Linked DNA regions of Homo sapiens. The protein of the gene in region 2 interacts with the protein of the main gene of each other region in a pairwise test. Each region holds a gene or a part of one and is shown on either strand. Other genes may lie near its edges. The genes, in order: DYDC2 and UBXN2A.

The links.
Region 1: the proteins of UBXN2A (region 2) and DYDC2 interact in binary tests that used the Homo sapiens proteins (3 or more experiments, as listed by UniProt).

The regions. Positions count from the first base shown.
Region 1 is NC_000010.11:80,359,056-80,367,340, reverse strand, and holds part of DYDC2 (DPY30 domain-containing protein 2), read right to left. Parts: intron 4,907-8,285; coding exon of another isoform or gene 4,898-4,906; coding exon 4,751-4,897; intron 4,391-4,750; coding exon 4,268-4,390; intron 654-4,267; coding exon 390-653; coding exon of another isoform or gene 376-389; 3' UTR 1-375.
Region 2 is NC_000002.12:23,935,238-23,944,070, forward strand, and holds the start of UBXN2A (UBX domain-containing protein 2A), read left to right. Parts: upstream 1-5,225; 5' UTR 5,226-5,411; intron 5,412-5,447; exon of another isoform or gene 5,448-5,619; intron 5,620-8,833. UniProt on the Homo sapiens protein: Acts to repress the ubiquitination and subsequent endoplasmic reticulum-associated degradation of CHRNA3 by the STUB1-VCP-UBXN2A complex in cortical neurons.

The DNA.
Region 1 (8,285 bases), on a different chromosome or scaffold from region 2:
TACTAGCATTGGCCCCCTGGTCCCACTTTCTCTCTTGACTTGTCTTTTCTCTTTCCTTTGACTCGGCTGGACTTTGTAGCCCCCATGGCCGGGTGTTGGGTCTGATCACCCCAACAGATGTGTTTTCATTGTGTAGTCTCCAAAACGTTGATAAAACAAGAGGAAAAAGTCACAGCCACTTGGTTACTTATTTTAAATCCTTATTCTGAGTTTATTTTATCCTATAACTAGTTCAAATGTTCACATGATTAAGGGTTTTTCAGAAAAGGAGTAGGCTGGAGAGTCCCTGAACTTGCCTTTTACAGCCCCTTAAATCTTGGTTCTAGCTGGCCATTTTCTTGGCTTCTAGCTTTGAGAGAAGTAAATCAGAAGCATCTACCTTCTGTAACCTAAAAAGGAGATTTGGAGCCAGGAGGCATTTCATGAGCAACTTCATGCTGAAAAGCCTCCTTGTAATTTATTTCTTGTGGCATTTTGAAGTTCTGGTCAATCTGGCCAGCAGACTCTGAAGGAGGAACCTGTTGAGGCATTCCTGGAATCAGACTGGAAGTACCTGGCAGGAATTCCTGCTTCAAGGCCTCCTTCTCAAGGGGGTTTGTGTCCTCCTGCATGAATATGGTCTTCTTCGTGGAAACAGTTTCAGAAGTCAGTTCCTAAATAGAAAACAAAAAAGCCGAAAACTTATTATTAGAGACTAAAGCACACAAGATGTATGGCAAAAACACAGTATTGCTATTTTCATGCCAGAGACTAAGAACCAAACTGAAATAGCCCTGCTTTAACAAAGCATAAAACCAAACCTATAGGATCAAGTTGATTCACCAATAATTTAACTGCCTGCCAGAACAAAACCCATCATCTTTTCATGGAAAACAACACAATCTAGACTCCCTATAAAACGTCCTCTACAATGTCCAGAACACAAGTAATAATTACCAGAAGTAAAAAAGTAGGAAAATGTGAACCATAATCTAGAGGAAAAGTATTCAACAGAAAAAGGCCCCAGAATGGGCTGGGCGTGGTGGCTTATGCCTGTAATCCCAGCACTTTGGGAGGCCGAGGTGGGTGGGTCATGAGGTCAGGAGTTTGAGACCAGCCTGGCCAACATGCTGAAACCCCGTCTCTACTAAAAATAAAAAAATTAGCTGGGTGTGGTGGCGGGCGCCTGTAATCCCAGCTACTTGGGAGGCTGAGGCAGGAGAATCACTTGAACCGGGGAGGCAGAGGTTGCAGTGAGCCAAGATCTTGCCACTGCACTCCAGCTTGGGTGACAAAGTGAGACTCCGTCTCAAAAAAAAAAAAAAAAAAAAAAGAGAAAGAAAAAGGTCCCAAAATGACAAAGATGGTGGAATTAACAGACAAGGACAGCTATTATAAATATTTTCAAAAATCCAAGGTAGAAAATGGACATAATGTAAGAGTTAAGATGTATCAGCAGAGAAAATGAGAATTATATTTAAAAAACTAAATAGAAATTCTATAAATGAAAAGTACAATATCTGAAGTGAAAAAATCCACAGAATCCCCAGATAGGATATAGGGCATTGCAGAAGAAATGGTCAGTAAACATGAAGGTTTATCAGTAGAAATTATCCAAACTGAACCACACAGGAAAAAAACAAACAAGCTTCAGTGACCTATGAGACAATATTGAGCAGTCTAACATCCATGTCCCTGGCTGAGGTAGGAATCCTTGGAGCTTAGGCTCTACTGATCCCCTCCACTTCAATCTTTGCCTGGAAGTTGTACAGGTCCATTCTACAATGAGCCCCGTGGAGTTCATCCTTGTCCACATGGTCTCTGAGACCCTTCTACACTTCAAACTATTGAGTCTATGCAGCAAATATCTATTCATTCTATAAAAATACATTTCTAAAACATTTGTATAGTTTAGATCTTTATAAACAATAGTTTTCTTCTGACTCAGAAACAAAATTATGGTTTACTTAAAGCTGCATCTGCTTAATGAAGAGACATCAATACCAAGGATAACCTCTGCCTGACTTAAATTCTACCTCCTCTATGGATACTTTTTGGTTCAGATAATTGGGTATGATCCCTACCATACATAGCATTCTGTTTCTGTTCCTCTTTTGATACATCCACTAGATAAGCACTATTCAATCTGGGATACTTAAAGACTTGCTAACCTGTATCCAAGTCATGATGTTTTTTTGTTTTTTTTTAAAGCGATCAAGGAAAAAACTGCAAAGCTTTGAGTATATGCATATCAGTTCATCAGGTAAACTAGCAGCCCTGCTGAAATTTCATGCAACCCATCCTGGGCCAGTTTGAAATTGGTTTTCCCAGCACTAGTCACACAAAAGGTGAAGGTGACCAATAGCAAGGAGCAATTTGTAATCCACCTTGAATCAATCAGAAACCAGAACTTGGAATCTTGTCTTTTTGATACACCTGTGCCTCTTTGTCCTTTATTTAGCCTTGTCAAAGTTTGCTTGGAGAGTAACTCACATCTTAATGTTGTGGCTCTCTCTTGCCAGGTAAACTATAAATTTGCTTCATTTTAGATCACTCTTGGGTTCTCTTTATTTCCTTCTAACATAGGGAATCAATTTCCATAATCATAACCTACACATGAACTCTTTTCTAAAACTGAGAACTTGCACATAGTCTAGACATTGTGCTTGTTGTCATTTCCCATCTTCCCTTACAACTGCCTACATCACACACTTGGCAAAAGAATGACATACCATTTACTTATCTAAATCTTGTTAAAAAATATTGCTGCAGGATGCAAAACCTCAGTGAAACACAAAAAGACAATTCAAAATATTGATGTGAACCGAGAAATTTTCCTTAATAAAGCTACCATAAAACTAGGGTGAAGTTTTGGGAGTCTTCTTTATATATTTCTTATTGCCTTATATATTTCTATTTCTATTAACAGTAAAGCATGGTGTTAGAAATGGATTAGAGGTGCACAGCAAGGTGATGACAAATTTTGCTGAATGATCCTCACCTCTCCCATCTCCAAACAATTGCTTAAAGAAGGAATTCTTCCTGAGGGAGAGTTCCTTTAGACTATTGTCAAACAATAGAATGAAACTATCTTTTGATTTAATTTATTTACAAGACATCCAGGCTTAAAAAAGCAAATCTATTCTTTATGAGGACATTGAGTATATTAGTATAAATGTAAATAAGCTTAATATTTTCATGTCTTCAAATTGGCTTGGAAGCTAACAAATGCTGGTGAATTGTAATGGACTGCATTAAAGACTTTAATGCACAGAGTATAGTCATAGCTAAAAAGATGTCATATATCAAACCCAACATTGCAATTGAGACGACTCTCTATCCAGGTATCTACCACTTTGTAGAAAGCATAGAATAGCATAAGGCGTTTTTCAGGAGATTGTGAAAAAAACTGTGGGAGGTAAAAGATAGGCTTGTCAGACTGACGAATGCAGAGTTGTCTTCGGCTATTCCAGCTTAATAACTTACATCTAATATTATAACATCACAGAGGAGGCATCTGAAGTTTCACAGAAAAGTAAATAGAATATAATAAACCAAATACTAAATACTAAGTTAAATATCTGAAGTATGCACTGATAACAATCATATTTGGTTTCTGAAAAATACTGAATACTACTTGAAAAGGGCTCAAAGGATCTTATATGAAAAAATATTTGTTCCAAGTGAATAGATTTTTTAAAAATCAGATTTTTTGGCTGGGCGTGGTGGCTCACGCCTGTAATCCCAGCACTTTGGGAGGCCGAGGTGGGCAGATCATGAGGTCAGGAGATCAAGACCATCCTGGTTAACATGGTAAAACCCTGTCTCTACTAAAAAAAAAAAAAAAAAATTAGCCGGGCGTGGTGGCATGTGCCTGTAGTCCCAGATACTCGGGAGGCTGAGACAGGAGAATCACTTGAACCCAGGAGGCAGAGGCTGTAGTGAGACGAGATCGCTCCACTGTGCTCCAGCCTGGGCAACAGAGCGAGACTCCATCTCAAAAAAAAAAAAAAAAAAAAAAAAAACAGATTTTTTTTAAAACCAGTAACACCAGAGTATTTCCTAAAATCTAAGACAAATTTGTCTTTTAACATCTCCTTTTTTCATTAACAAAGATTGTCAATAACATTGGTTTATATGCAAATATGTGAATACTTGCACATATATTGAAAATCAAGCTAAAGGGACCCTTAATGTGCCTTGGATTGGGACTGGGCTGACTTGTGGCTTTCCTGGAGTCCATCACTGGGATGTGTGTGGCAACCCAAAGCTGAGTCCTTCTCCCTACCTTGTGACACTTTTCACAGTTCTGTTGAATCTGATACTCTTCCTGTTTCAGCATTTCTGTCATTTCCATTTCCTTGAGGCTACTGTCATATTCCTCCTGCAGGTGGATCTTCTTTTCCCTATTCTGGGGTGAGGTGACAGAGTCAAATCAGGTCAGCAACCAGGGAAGCCTTATAAACGGGGCCCCCTCACTGGGGACTGATATGGGCTGTGGGCTCTTTGGGCCTGTTGAGTTTCCTCTTGTAACTAGCTTTAGCCTGCTAGTAGTTACAAACCCTTCAACTCCACAGCTCGTCTGAGTTGAAGCTCCACTCCTCTGAGTTAGCCCCCAGGATCCCCATGCTTCAGGGATATCTGGCTCTAAGAGCAAGTCAAATAAACCAAGAAATTCCCCAGGCCAGCTCCAGAATCCTGCCTTGTGTCTTGGCTTTCAAATTACTCTGGGAAAGCTGGGCCCTCCCTAAGTCCCAGTGCACATACACACCTCTTCTTTTGCTTTTGCTGTTTTCCTGTAATGATAAAGCCAGTGAGCCAGGTATTCTATTGGGTCACTGGGCCGAACCTTCGCCACCTCTGCCAGTGCCTGGGCCAGGCAATTTCCAAAGCACCTCTTCAGGTAGTTAGTTTCCATCCTGGCAGCCTGGAAAACATCAAAACAAAGTCACACTATTTTACAAACTTAATCTGATATTAAAAATAGACACATTCTAACCAATTCAGATTTATTTCAGGATAAATATGAGATGCTTCTGGATCACACCTTTCCCAAAAGAACCAACAAACACTTACTTGCTGTTATATTCAGTGGAGGATTGTGCCATGAAACAACCTAGGACCTGGCCTCCTCCTGACGGAGTCCATATTCCTGAAGTTGACACATTTTAATTCCAAAAGAGCCCAGCAAATAATAAAAGCTCAGATCTAGCCTTAACATTTTCTGGAGGCATTTTTCAATTTGTCCCCCTACTTCTCATATTTTAGCTTAAGGAAGGAAAAACAAGTAGACAGATATCCATATCTATCTTATACATATCTATCTTATGGACATAGGAAAAAATATTTCCTAGCTCTCTCCACTGCAAGGGCCTTGAAACCAAAACACTTCAGTAGCAATGAGCACGCTAAGCATATAAACCTTGCTTGTAAATAGCCTTCATCACTTAAGAGGAATCAGGGCTCCTTGGAGAAATGGCTGATTCCAAGGCTGGGGCAGGACAAGCCTAACGAGCCTGGAACATTTTGTTGTGCCAGAAAGTAAGAAAATTCTAAAAAATACAATCGTTGGGGACAGAGAAGCCAGCTTGAAGGGGCTCCTACTAGTCAAATCTGGGGCAGTTTGACCATTAAAATAGTGACTGTAATGGATTATAACTTACAGAATAAAATAAGAATCCATGAGTCCATATGAGAATATATAAGTAGATTAAGAAGGGAGAAGGCAAAGTTCTTTGTTAAAGTAGAATGCCAACTAATAAATGTGGGGAAAATAATGGAGTTTTAAAAAACTGCCATTTCCTCACCACCATAGTATAACTGAATCAAAGCAGGATCATCAATGAGTCAATGAGTGCTAAACCTGGGTGATCATTTGACAAGGAATAAGATATATGCATAGTCTCAAAGTTTCTTCTCACAAATTAAGTATTAATTCCAAAGGAAATACAGAAATTTTACAGTGGCAAAACCTGGCCAACAAAACCTTAACCAAGTAATCAAAGTAAACATCACCAACAAAGGAACAAAGTGACATCAACTGCCTCCTGATGTGATGCACTTCTTATGGTACATAAAACATTTCCGTGGATTCCTGCCTAAAATGCAATATTTGAATGTAATTGAAGAAACATCAAATAAATCCAAAGCAACTACCCTGTACTCTTAAAAATGTTGAGGGTATGAAAAAAAAAAGAGTAACTGTTATAGATCAAAGGAGATTGAACAGCCATAATAACTACATGTAACACATGATCCTAGATTGGGCCTGGACAAGAAAAAATAATTCAGCTGGGCATGGTGGTGCACGCCTATAAATCCAGCACTTTGGGAGGCTGAGGCAGGAGGATCACTTGAGCTCAGGGGTTTGATACCAGCCTGGGCAACAAGGCAAAACCCTGTCTCCACAAAAAATACAAAAATTAGCCAGGTGTGATGGCACACACCTGCAGTCCCAGCTACTTGGAGGGGTTGGGGGCAGGGCTGAGGTGGGAGGATCACTTGAGCCCAGGAGGTTGTGGCTGCAATGCGTTGAGATCTCACCACTGCACTCCAACCTGGGTGACAGAGCGAGACCCTGTCTAAAAAAAAAAAAAAAGAAAGAAAGAAAAGAAGAAGAAAGAATTCTATAAAGGGCATTGTTGGGAAAATTGGTTGAACTGAATGTGAAATGTAGATTATGTGACATAATTTATCCAAGTTAAATTTCTTAATTTTGAATAATGGAAATATGAGTAAGAGAATGTCCTTGTTCTAGGGCTGAATAATGGCTCCCAAATGTGTCTATGTCTGAATACCTGGAAACTATGAATATGTCACCTTAAATGGCAAAAGAGACTTTGTAACTGTGATTAAATTAAGGATCTTGAGATAGGGGGATTATCCTGGATTATCTGAGTAGGAACAATGTAATCACAGGTGTCACTATAAGAGGGACACAGTACGGTCAGACAGGGAAGGTGATGACAGAGCCAAGGGAGAAAAAGCGATGTGATTCAGGGCCTTGAGCCAAGGGTATCCTCTAGAAGCTGGAAAAGACAAGAAAATGGATTCTCCCCAGAGCCTCCTGAGGAACCTGCCCTGCTGACACTTTGGTTTTAGCTCTATAAGATTCATTTTGGACTTCTGACCCCAAGACCTGTAAGGGAATTAAAAAAAAATTGAGTGGGGTAGTGATGGAGGGTGGGGACAGAGGTGGGTGGTGTCTCCTGCCAATCTGTGTGGCCCACTTGAACCAATGCATTTGGATAAACAAACTTCTACACCCCTCTTACTCAAAGCTAGTCTGACGACAGATGACCAGCAGCATTCCATCACCTGGGTGAGAGGTGACAGCGTGCTGGCAGCCCTCTCTTGCTCTTGGCACCTCCTCGGCCTTGGTGCCCACTCTGGCCATGCTTGAGGAGCCCTTCAGCCCGCCGCTGCACTGTGGGAGCCCCTCTGGGCTGGCCAAGGCCGGAGCCGGCTCTGCTTGCAGGGAGGTGTGGAGGGAGAGGCGCGGGCGGGAAATGGGGCCGCGTGTGGCACTCGCAGGCCAGCGCAAGTTCCGGGTGGGCGCGGGCTTGGTGGGCCCCGCACTCGGATCAGCCGGCCAGCACTGCAGGCCCCAGGCAGTGAGGAGCTTAGCACTGGGCCAGCAGCTGCAGAGGGTGTGCTGGGTCCCCCAGCAGTGCCGGCCTGCCAGCACTTTGCTCGAATTCTTGCCGGGCCTCTACTGCCTCCCCACGGGGCTCCGGACATGCAGCCCGCCATGCCCGAGCCTCCCCCGCACCGTGGGCTCCTGTGCTGTCGGAGCCTCCCTGATGAGCGCCACCCACTGCTCCGCGGTGCCCGGTCCCATCGACCGCCCAAGGGCTGAGGAGTGCGGGCACACTACGTGGGACTGGCAGGCAGCTCCGCCTGCAGCCCTGATGCGGGATCCACTAGGTGAAGCCATTTGGGCTCCTGAGTCTAGTGGAGACTTGGAGAATCTTTATGTCTAGCTAAGGGATTGTAAATACACCAATCAGCATTCTGTGTCTAGCTCAAGGTTTGTAAATGTACCAATCAGCACCCCGTGTCTAGCTCAAGGTTTGTAAATGCACCAATCAGTGCTCTGTGTCTAGCTAATCTAGTGGGGACTTGGAGAACTTTTGTGTCTAGCTCAAGGATTGTAAACACACCAATCAGCACCCTGTCAAAATGGACCAATCAGCTCTCTGTAAAACAGAGCAATCAGCTCTCTGTAAAATGAACCAATCAGCAGGATGTGGGTAGGGCCGGATAAGGGAATAAAAGCAGGCTGCCTGAGCCAGCAGCTGCAACCT
Region 2 (8,833 bases):
AAATTTTAAACTTCTGTATCAAAGGATACTAACCCCAAAGTGAAAAGACAATTCACAGAATCAGAGGAAAGATTTGCAAATCACATATCTGATAAGGGATTACTATCCATAATATGTATTTTTTAAAACGCAAAAACTCCTGTAACTCAACAACAACAACAACAAAAAAAACCTATTTGAAAATTCGCAAGGAGTTAAATAGGCGTTTCTCCAAAAAAAATATACGAATAGCCAATAGGCGCATGAAAAGATATTCAGCATCACTAGTCATCAGAGAAATGCAAATCAAAACCATAGTGAGATACACTTCATACTCATTAGGGCGGGATAGTTATAAACACACATACACATACACACACAGAGAAAATAACAAGTGTTGGGAAGATGTAGAGAAATTAGAACACTAGTACATCGCTGGTAGGAATGTAAGATGGTGCTGCTATTTGGAAAACAATATGACTGGTCCTTGAAAAGTTAAACACAGAAATACCCTATTCCACTTCTAGGTATATACTCAAAAAAATTGAAAACGCCAGGCACGGTGGCCCACACCTGTAATCCCAGCACTTTGGGAAGCCGAGGTGGGTGGATCACCAGAGGTCAGGAGTTCAAGACCAGCCTGGTCAACATGGCGAAACCCCATCTCTACTAAAAATACAAAAATTAGCTGGGCATGGTTGGGGGGCACCTTTAATCCCAGCCAGTCAGAAAAGCTGAGGTGAGAGAATCCCTTGAACCTGGGAGGGGGAGGTTGCAGTGAGTCAAGATTGCACCAATGCACTCCAGCCTGGGTGACAGAGGGAGGCTGTCTCAAAAATAAATAAATTAAATTAATAAATAAATATTCTTGCCACAATAAAACAAAAATTTTAAAAAATTGAAAGTAAGGAGTCAATCAAATACTTGTATACCAAAGTCCATACCAGCATTATTCAAGATAGCAGAAAGGTGGAAGCAACCCAAATGGCCGTCAACATATGAATGGATAAGCAAAATGTAATATATACATACAATGGAATCTTATTCAACCATAAACGGGAATGATATACTGACACATGCTATAACATGAATGAACTTGAAAATAATTATGCTAAGTGAAATAAGCCGGACAAAAAAGAACAAATATTGTAGGAGTCCACGTATATGAGGTATCTAGAATGGGCAAATTCATAGAGACAGAAAGTAGAATAGGCTGTGCGTGGTGGCTCAGACCTGTAATCATAGCACTTTGGGAGGCCAAGGTGGGAGGATTGTTTTGAGTCCAGGAGTTTGAGACTAGCCTGGGCAACCTGGTGAAAATCCTACCTCAAAAAAAAAAAGAGAGAAAGAAAGTAGAATAGAGATTACTATGGGCTGTGGGGATGGAGAGAGACTCTGTCTCAAAGAAAAAGAAAAACATACACCTAACATCATACTCAATGGTGAGAGAGACTGAAAGCTTTTTGTCTAAAATTAGGAACAAGACAAAGAAGCCCACTCTCATCATTTTTTGAGACAGAGTCTTGCTCTGTCACCCAGGCTGGAGTGCAGTGGCGTGATCTCGGCTCACTGCAACTTCTGCCTCCTGGGTTCAAGCAATTCTCCTGCCTCAGCCTCCCGAGTAGCTGGGATTACAGGTGCCTGCCACCACGCCTGGCTAATTTTTGTATTTTTAGTACAGACGGGGTTTCACCATGTTGCCCAGGCTCGTCTCGAACTCCTGGCCTCAAGTGATTCACCTGCCTAAGCCTCCCAAAGGGCTGGGATTAAAGGCATGAGCCACCGTGCCCGGCCTCATCATTTCTTTTCTGTTTTTCTTAAGTCTAGTAATAGAGTCTCGCTATGTTGCCCCAGGTTGGTCTCAAATTCCTGGGCTCAAGCAATTCTCCTGCCTCAGCCTCCGAAAGTGCTGAGATTACAGGTGTAAGCCACCACACCCAGCCTCTTCATTTCTATTCAACATTGTACTGGAAGTTCTAGCTAGAGCAGTTAGACAATAAAAAGAAATAAAAGGCATCCACATTAGAAAGAAATAAATAAAACTATGGCCAAGTGTGGTATCTCATACCTGTAATCCCAGTGCTTTGGGAGGCCCAAGCAGGAGGATAGTTTGAGGCCAGGGGTTCGAGACCAGCCTGGGCAACACAGTGAAACTCCATCTCTACAAAAAAAATTTTTTTTTAATTGGTCGGGCATGGTGGCACACGTCTGTGGTCCTAGCTACTCAGGACACTGTGGTGGAAGGATTACTTGATCCCAGGAGTTCGATATCAACCTGGGCAATGTACGGAGACCCCATCTCTAGCAAATGATTAGAGCTAATAAGTGAATTCAGCAAAGTTGTTAGATACAAGATCAACACACAAAATCAGTGGTATTTCCAAATACTGGCAATAAAAAATCTAAAAAGGAAATAAATCAACTCCTTTTACAATAGCATCAAAAAGAATAAAATACTTTGAAATATATTTAACCAAAGAGGTACGAGACTTGTACGTGGAAAACTATAAAACACTGCTGAAAGAAATGAAAGAAGGTCTAAGTATGGTCATGTAGTGCTTAACCATGGGGGCACCTTCTGAGAAATGTGTCGTGTAAGTGAATTCGTCGTTGTGTGAACATCACAGAGTATACTTACACAAACCTGGATGGTATAGTGTACTACACATCTAGGCAATATGGCATAGCCTTGCTCCCGGGCTACAAACCTGGACAGCATGTTACTGTATTGAATACTGTAGACAATTGTAACATGATGGTATTTGTGTATCTAAACATAGAAAAGATACAGTAAAAATATGGCCTTATAATCTTATGTGACCACCATCACATATGCTGTAAGTCATGGACCGAAAGGTTGTTATGTGGCGCACGACTATAAATGCAAAAATATTCATGCTTAAGGATTTGAAGACTTTATATATAAAGTGAGTCATCGCACCAGTATTGTTAAGATATCAATACTCCGGCTGGGTGTGTTGGCTCACACCTGTAATACCGGCACTTTGGGAGGCCGAGGCGGGTGGATCATCTAAGGTCGGGAGTTCAAGACCAGCCTGACCAACATGGTGAAACCCTGTCTCTACTAAAAATACAAAAATTAGCTGGGCATGGTGGTGCATGCCTATAATCCCAGCTACTTGGGAGGCTGAGGCAGGAGAATCACTAGAACCTGGGAGGCGGAGGTTATAGTGAGCCGAGATCATGCCATTGCACTCCAGCCTGGGCAACAAGAGCAAAACTCCATCTCAAAAAAAAAATTGAAGGTATCAATACTCCTCAAATTGATCTACCAATTCAAAGCAATCCCTGTCAAAATCCCAGTGGCCCCCCCCTCCCTTTTTTTTTTTTTTTAACAGCAATGGAAAAGCTGAGCTAAAATTCATACAGAACTGCAAGCGACAAAACAATCTTGAAAAAGAGGAGCAAAGTTGGAGGACTCAAACTTCCTGATTTCTATACAGCTACTATACAGCTGTATACAGCTACTATACAGCTACAGTAATCAAAATAGTATGGTACTAGCATAAAGATAAGATACATAATCAATGGAATAGAATTGAGAGTACAGAAATAAATTTATACATCCATGGTCAATTGATTTTTGACAAGGGAAGAATCCTCTCTTCATTAAATGGTGCTGGGACCAAAAAATCGGAAGAGCTCTCACAGAATGGTCAAAGAAAAGTCTCTTTGCCTAATGGGATCAATTTAACTCCTTATTGTGCTTCAACAGACACGGTCTCATGAGCAGTGAGATTTGAACTCACCACAGGCTCCCAAAATCACTGAACAGGAGATGAGGGAGGTGGTGGTGGGGGGAACGGCATGGGCCTGTAGGTGAGGATCAATCTCAATCTGAGTCCCCGCACTAAAGACTTACAAATAAATCCCGATTTAGGCAAACCGAGACTTTATTCGGAAAGGATTATTGCAACAGGGGGGAAAAGGACTATTGCAATAAGGGTGGAGAACTATTGCAATAGGAAGAAGGACTGTTGCAATTGGGAGAATGCTGGACTATAAAATAAAAAACAAATCTGGATATACGTAAGGAGAGAGTTCAGTGGAAGAGATCCAAGAAAAGGGAAAGAAACTATTGCAACTGAGAGTGGGGATTGGGGGAGGCTACAGCAACCGGGAGAACTCTCCAACCATGAGATCTGCAGCGATCTCCTGGGTCAGGCAGAAAAGGGCTTTCCTTTTACAGAGATGAGTGAACAGGGCTAGAAAGACCCGGGTGTGGGGAAGTGGGGAGAAGACTGGAGGTGGCAGCGATGAGACTATACAGAGACTGTTTCCCTGGGGTCCGTCTATTTTCAGGCGGTGGATGAGGAGGGCTGCTCGCTGGCTGCGGCTGAGGCTCGGTCACCGTGTAGAGAGGCCCAGGGAGAGCTGCTTCACTCAAGTCCTGTCAAGTCAAGGCAGCCGGGATTTGTCCACATCGTGAGTACAGGCAGGTCAGCTAACTATTTGCGAGGCGAAGAACTGGAATTTAGAGGGTCTGGGCCTGACCTTGTCACAGCTAACGACGGGGGCATCCTTGAGTCCTGACAAAGTCACATGCGGAAGGGCGGTTGCGTGTAGTAAGTCCTTTTAGGAACACAAAGGGGCCGGGCGCGGTGGCTCACGCCTGTAATCCCAGCACATTGGGAGACCAAGGCGGGCGGATCACCTGAGGTCAGGAGTTCAAGACCAGCCTGGCCAACATGGTGAAACCCCGTCTCTACTAAAAATACAAAAATTAGCCGGGCGTGCTGGCAGGCGCCTGTAATCCCAGCTACTCCGGAGGCTGAGGCAGGAGAATCGCTCGAATCCGGGAGGCGGAGGTTGCGGTGAGCCAAGATCGCGCCATTGTATTCCAACCTGGGGGACAAGAGCGAGATTTAGTCTCAAAAAAAAAAAAAAAAAAAGGTGGGTGGGGGTTTCTTCAACTTCGTTGTCCACAGGGCTCAGGTCAAGTTCAACATTGTCAGAATGCAGGGATGTCTCTCCATGGTTTCTGAGGCTGAGGAGGTACCCAGGTAAGCACACTCTGGGTTCTCTGGTGAGCACACACCGAGCTGCCTGCATCTCCCCTACCCATGAAGGCAGCTAGCCGCCGGGCCAGTGGTGGGAAGGGGAGGCGGCCATTAGCGCCGTTCCCGCCGGGACTTGAAGCGCCCGGCCGCGGCAAGCCCCGCCCTCGGCGCGCCCCCGCGTCCGCGCGCGCTCCTCGGGTCTGCGCGGAGCCGGCGTCGGCGCGCGCTTGGGCGCCTGGCGAAGACCGAGAGAGGCTGGCGGGATCTCAGCGGCGCGGCCGCGGAACCTGAGGCGGTCTGGGGCGGCGGCGCTCCGGCTCTGAAGGGCTCCAGCCAAACGGAGCCCGCGGCCAAACGGTGCCTGCGGTGCCTGAGCTGAGTGAGGCCGAGGCCGGGAGGCCGTGCCCGGAGGTGAGCGTCCCGGGGCCGCGCCGCGTCCGGCGGGGTGAGGGCGGGGCGGGGCGGTCGCCTGCCGGCTGGGGCCGAGGGGTCGCGGCCTGTGGCTTGGCCGCCGCGGATCGTCGGTGTCGGGGGGAGTCTCGCTCCGGAGGGCCGCGTGTTTGCGACTCGGGAAGGGGCGCCGGCGGCGGAGCCCGAGCCAGGGTCCCGCCCAGCCCAGGTGAGCGGCGACCCCGAGCCCCTGACTCGCCTGCGGCTTGACTTGCGAGCTAGCTGAAGGCACAGCTCCTGGTTCTCTCGCAGGGCGTTCCGAAACTTACAGTTATGCGCAACACAATGTTTCTATTTTCAAAGGCGAACGCTGCACGATCGCAGTCCAGTGATACAAAGTATGCCTATTAGTGACTTCACCCGACTCCCACCACTCACTTTCTCTGATGTTTTGAAGGCCTGGTGTTCGCTGATTTCACGTTTCCTTAATTTCTTCTTTGTGCCTTTTTTTTTTCCTTTTCGCTGCCAGTAATAAAAGAGTTTATTACTTGTCAGCAATGATGAATGTTCGTGTGGCATCCAGCGTTGAGTTCCTATGTACGTAATTTGAGATAAGTAAAGATAGGAAACTGCTGATTTGTTTTGATGCGAATGCAGAAAATAATGTGGTAGTATGAAGTCTGGCCGGTTGCAGTTTGTTTTTAGGGGGGAAACTTTAAAAGTTCATGTTGTGTCTTCTTTCTAAATATGCTGAAAGTCGGATTTATTTAAAAGGCAATTAAATTCAGTGAATACAGAGTATCTTTTTATAACACTAATGTTAGTGCTAGGCACTGGCGGAGTCCAAAAATGTGTAAAAAATGTGTGCAGGAGGGAGTGGTTAAGCACACTAATGATATGAGGCTGACTGCAGTCCAGTGTTAATGGAAGCTCACACTTACTGAGCAGTTGTTTTCAGCTGGGCACTGTGGAGGGTACTTTACTTGCATTTTAATTTAATAATGTATAATAATTAGCATACACTTGATTTAATTTTTTTCATTCAAAAAAATTTTAGTACCTACTGTGTACTGAATGCTAAGGATACAATAGTGACAATTACAGACTCTGCCTTTAGACTCTACAGTGTCATTGGGCAAAACAGATATTAAGCAAATAATCAGGGCCCGGAGCGATGGCTCACGCCTGTAATCCCAGCACTTTGAAAGGCTGAGGTGGGCAGATCACCTGAGGTCAGCAGTTCTAGACCAGCCTGGCTAACATGGTGAAACCCCGTCTCTCTCTACTAAAAATACAGAAATTAGCTGGGCGTGATGGGGGGCGTCTGTAATCCCAGCTACTCAGAAAAACTGAGGCAGGAGAATAGCTTGAGCCGGCGAGAGGTAGAGGTTGCAGTGAGCCAAGATGGTGCCACTGCACTCCAGCCTGGGTGACAGAGCGGGACTCCATCTCAAAAAGTAAAATAAAATAAATAATCACACAAATAAATGCCAATAAGCAAAGACAGAGGCTAAAATAAAGAATGTAAGTTGTTTGTGAGAGAAGGTAACAGGGGGACTTATCCAAGCTGGGAAAGTTTTCCTAGGAAAGTAATCTTTGAGCTTAGATATTAGGGATAAATAGGAATTAGGGGAAGATGACTCCCAAAGGAGAGAAGAAAGGCTCAGGCAAAGGAAATAGATGGCGCGGAGGCTAGGGAAGATGGTCATTTCAGGAACTTCAGCAGTTGTTGTGTGGAAAGCAAAAGGGTGCTGTGATAAAGTAGGTTAGGGCCAAAGAGATGATGCAGGGCTTTTTTTTTTTTTTTTTTTTTTGTTACAGAGTCTCGCTCTGTCACCCAGGCTGGAGTGCAGCGGCACGATCTTGGCTCACTGCAATCTCTTCCGGATTCAAGCGATTCTCCTGCCTCAGCCTCCCGAGTAGCTGGGACTATAATGCGCGCCACCATGCCCGGCTAATTTTTGTATTTTTAGTAGAGATGGAGTTTCACTGTGTTGGTCAGACTGGTCTCAAAATCCTGACCTCTGGTGATCCACCCACCTCGGCCTCCCAGAGTGCTGGGATTACAGACGTGAGCCACCGTGCCCGGCTGATGCAGGGCCTTTTAAGCAATGTTAAGGATTTGGGACCAGCTTTTTCTGTTTCTTTTTCTTTTTTAAACTTTTATAGAAAACTTTTCAAACCACTCAAATGTAGGGAGAGAACAGTACAATGAACTCTCCCGTAATATTACCCAAATGACTTGGATGTTATTTTAACAGTAATAGGAAGTCGTTTAAAGGTTTACCTCCGTCAGAAAAAAAAAAAGTTTAAAGCAAGGTAAGTCTTACTACAAACAACTTTTTTTTTTTTTTGAGACGGAGTCTCGCACAGGCAGGAGTGCTGTGGTGCAATCTCCGCTCACTGCAACCTCTGCCTCCCGGGTTCAAACGATTCTCCTGCCTCAGCCTCCCGAGTAGCTGGGATTACAGGCATGCGCCACCATGCCTGGCTAGTTTTTTGTATTTTTGGTAGAGACGGGGTTTCACTGTGTTGGCCAGGCTGGTCTCGAACTCCAGACCTTCTGATCTGCCCACTTCAGCCTCCCAAAGTGCTGGAATTACAGGCGTGAGCCACCGTGCCTGGCCAACTTTTTATTTCAAAAAGTCGTCCTGACTGCTGTGTAGAAACTGGATTGGATGGGGACAAGAATGGAAATGAGGAGACCACCTAGAGTTGATGGTGGTTGGGACTAGAATTGTGGCAATGAAGGCATTGAAAATTTAAGAGTACCTAACTGATCTCTTCTCATGTTAATAATTTTATATTCACACCTATTGGAGGAATCATGGAAGGTTTTCTAAAGGAGATTGTATGTATGTATGTTTTTATTTATTTGAGATAGAGTTTTGTTCTTGCCACCCAGGTTGGAGTGCAATGACCCAATCTTGGCTCATGGCAACTTCTGCCTCCTGGGTTCAAGCAATTCTCCTGCCTCAGCCTCCCAAGTAGTTGGGATTACAGGTATGCACCACCACACCCAGCTAATTTTGTATTTTTAGTAGAGAGAGACAGGGTTTCACCATGTCGGTCAGGCTGGTCTCGAACTCCTGACCTCAGGTAATCTGCCCGTCTTGGCCTCCCAAAGTGCTGGGATTACAGGCTTAAACCACCGTGCCCAGCTAAAGGAGATTATATTTAAAATGAGCTTTGCATTTCCGTCCAGACCAGAACCCAAGATGGCTGCACTCTTGCTGAGACATGTTGGAGTGGTCATTGCCTCCGAGCGCACTTTAGCCCTCAGCTTTGTATCAGAAATGCTGTTCCTTTGGGAATCATGGCCAAAGAAGAGATGGAATGGTTCTGGAATAAGAACACAGGTTCAAACCGTCCCGTATCTCCCCACGTCACTATCTAGAGTTGGTGTCTTCCTATGTCGATGTCCATCTGCCACCATGGCTCTG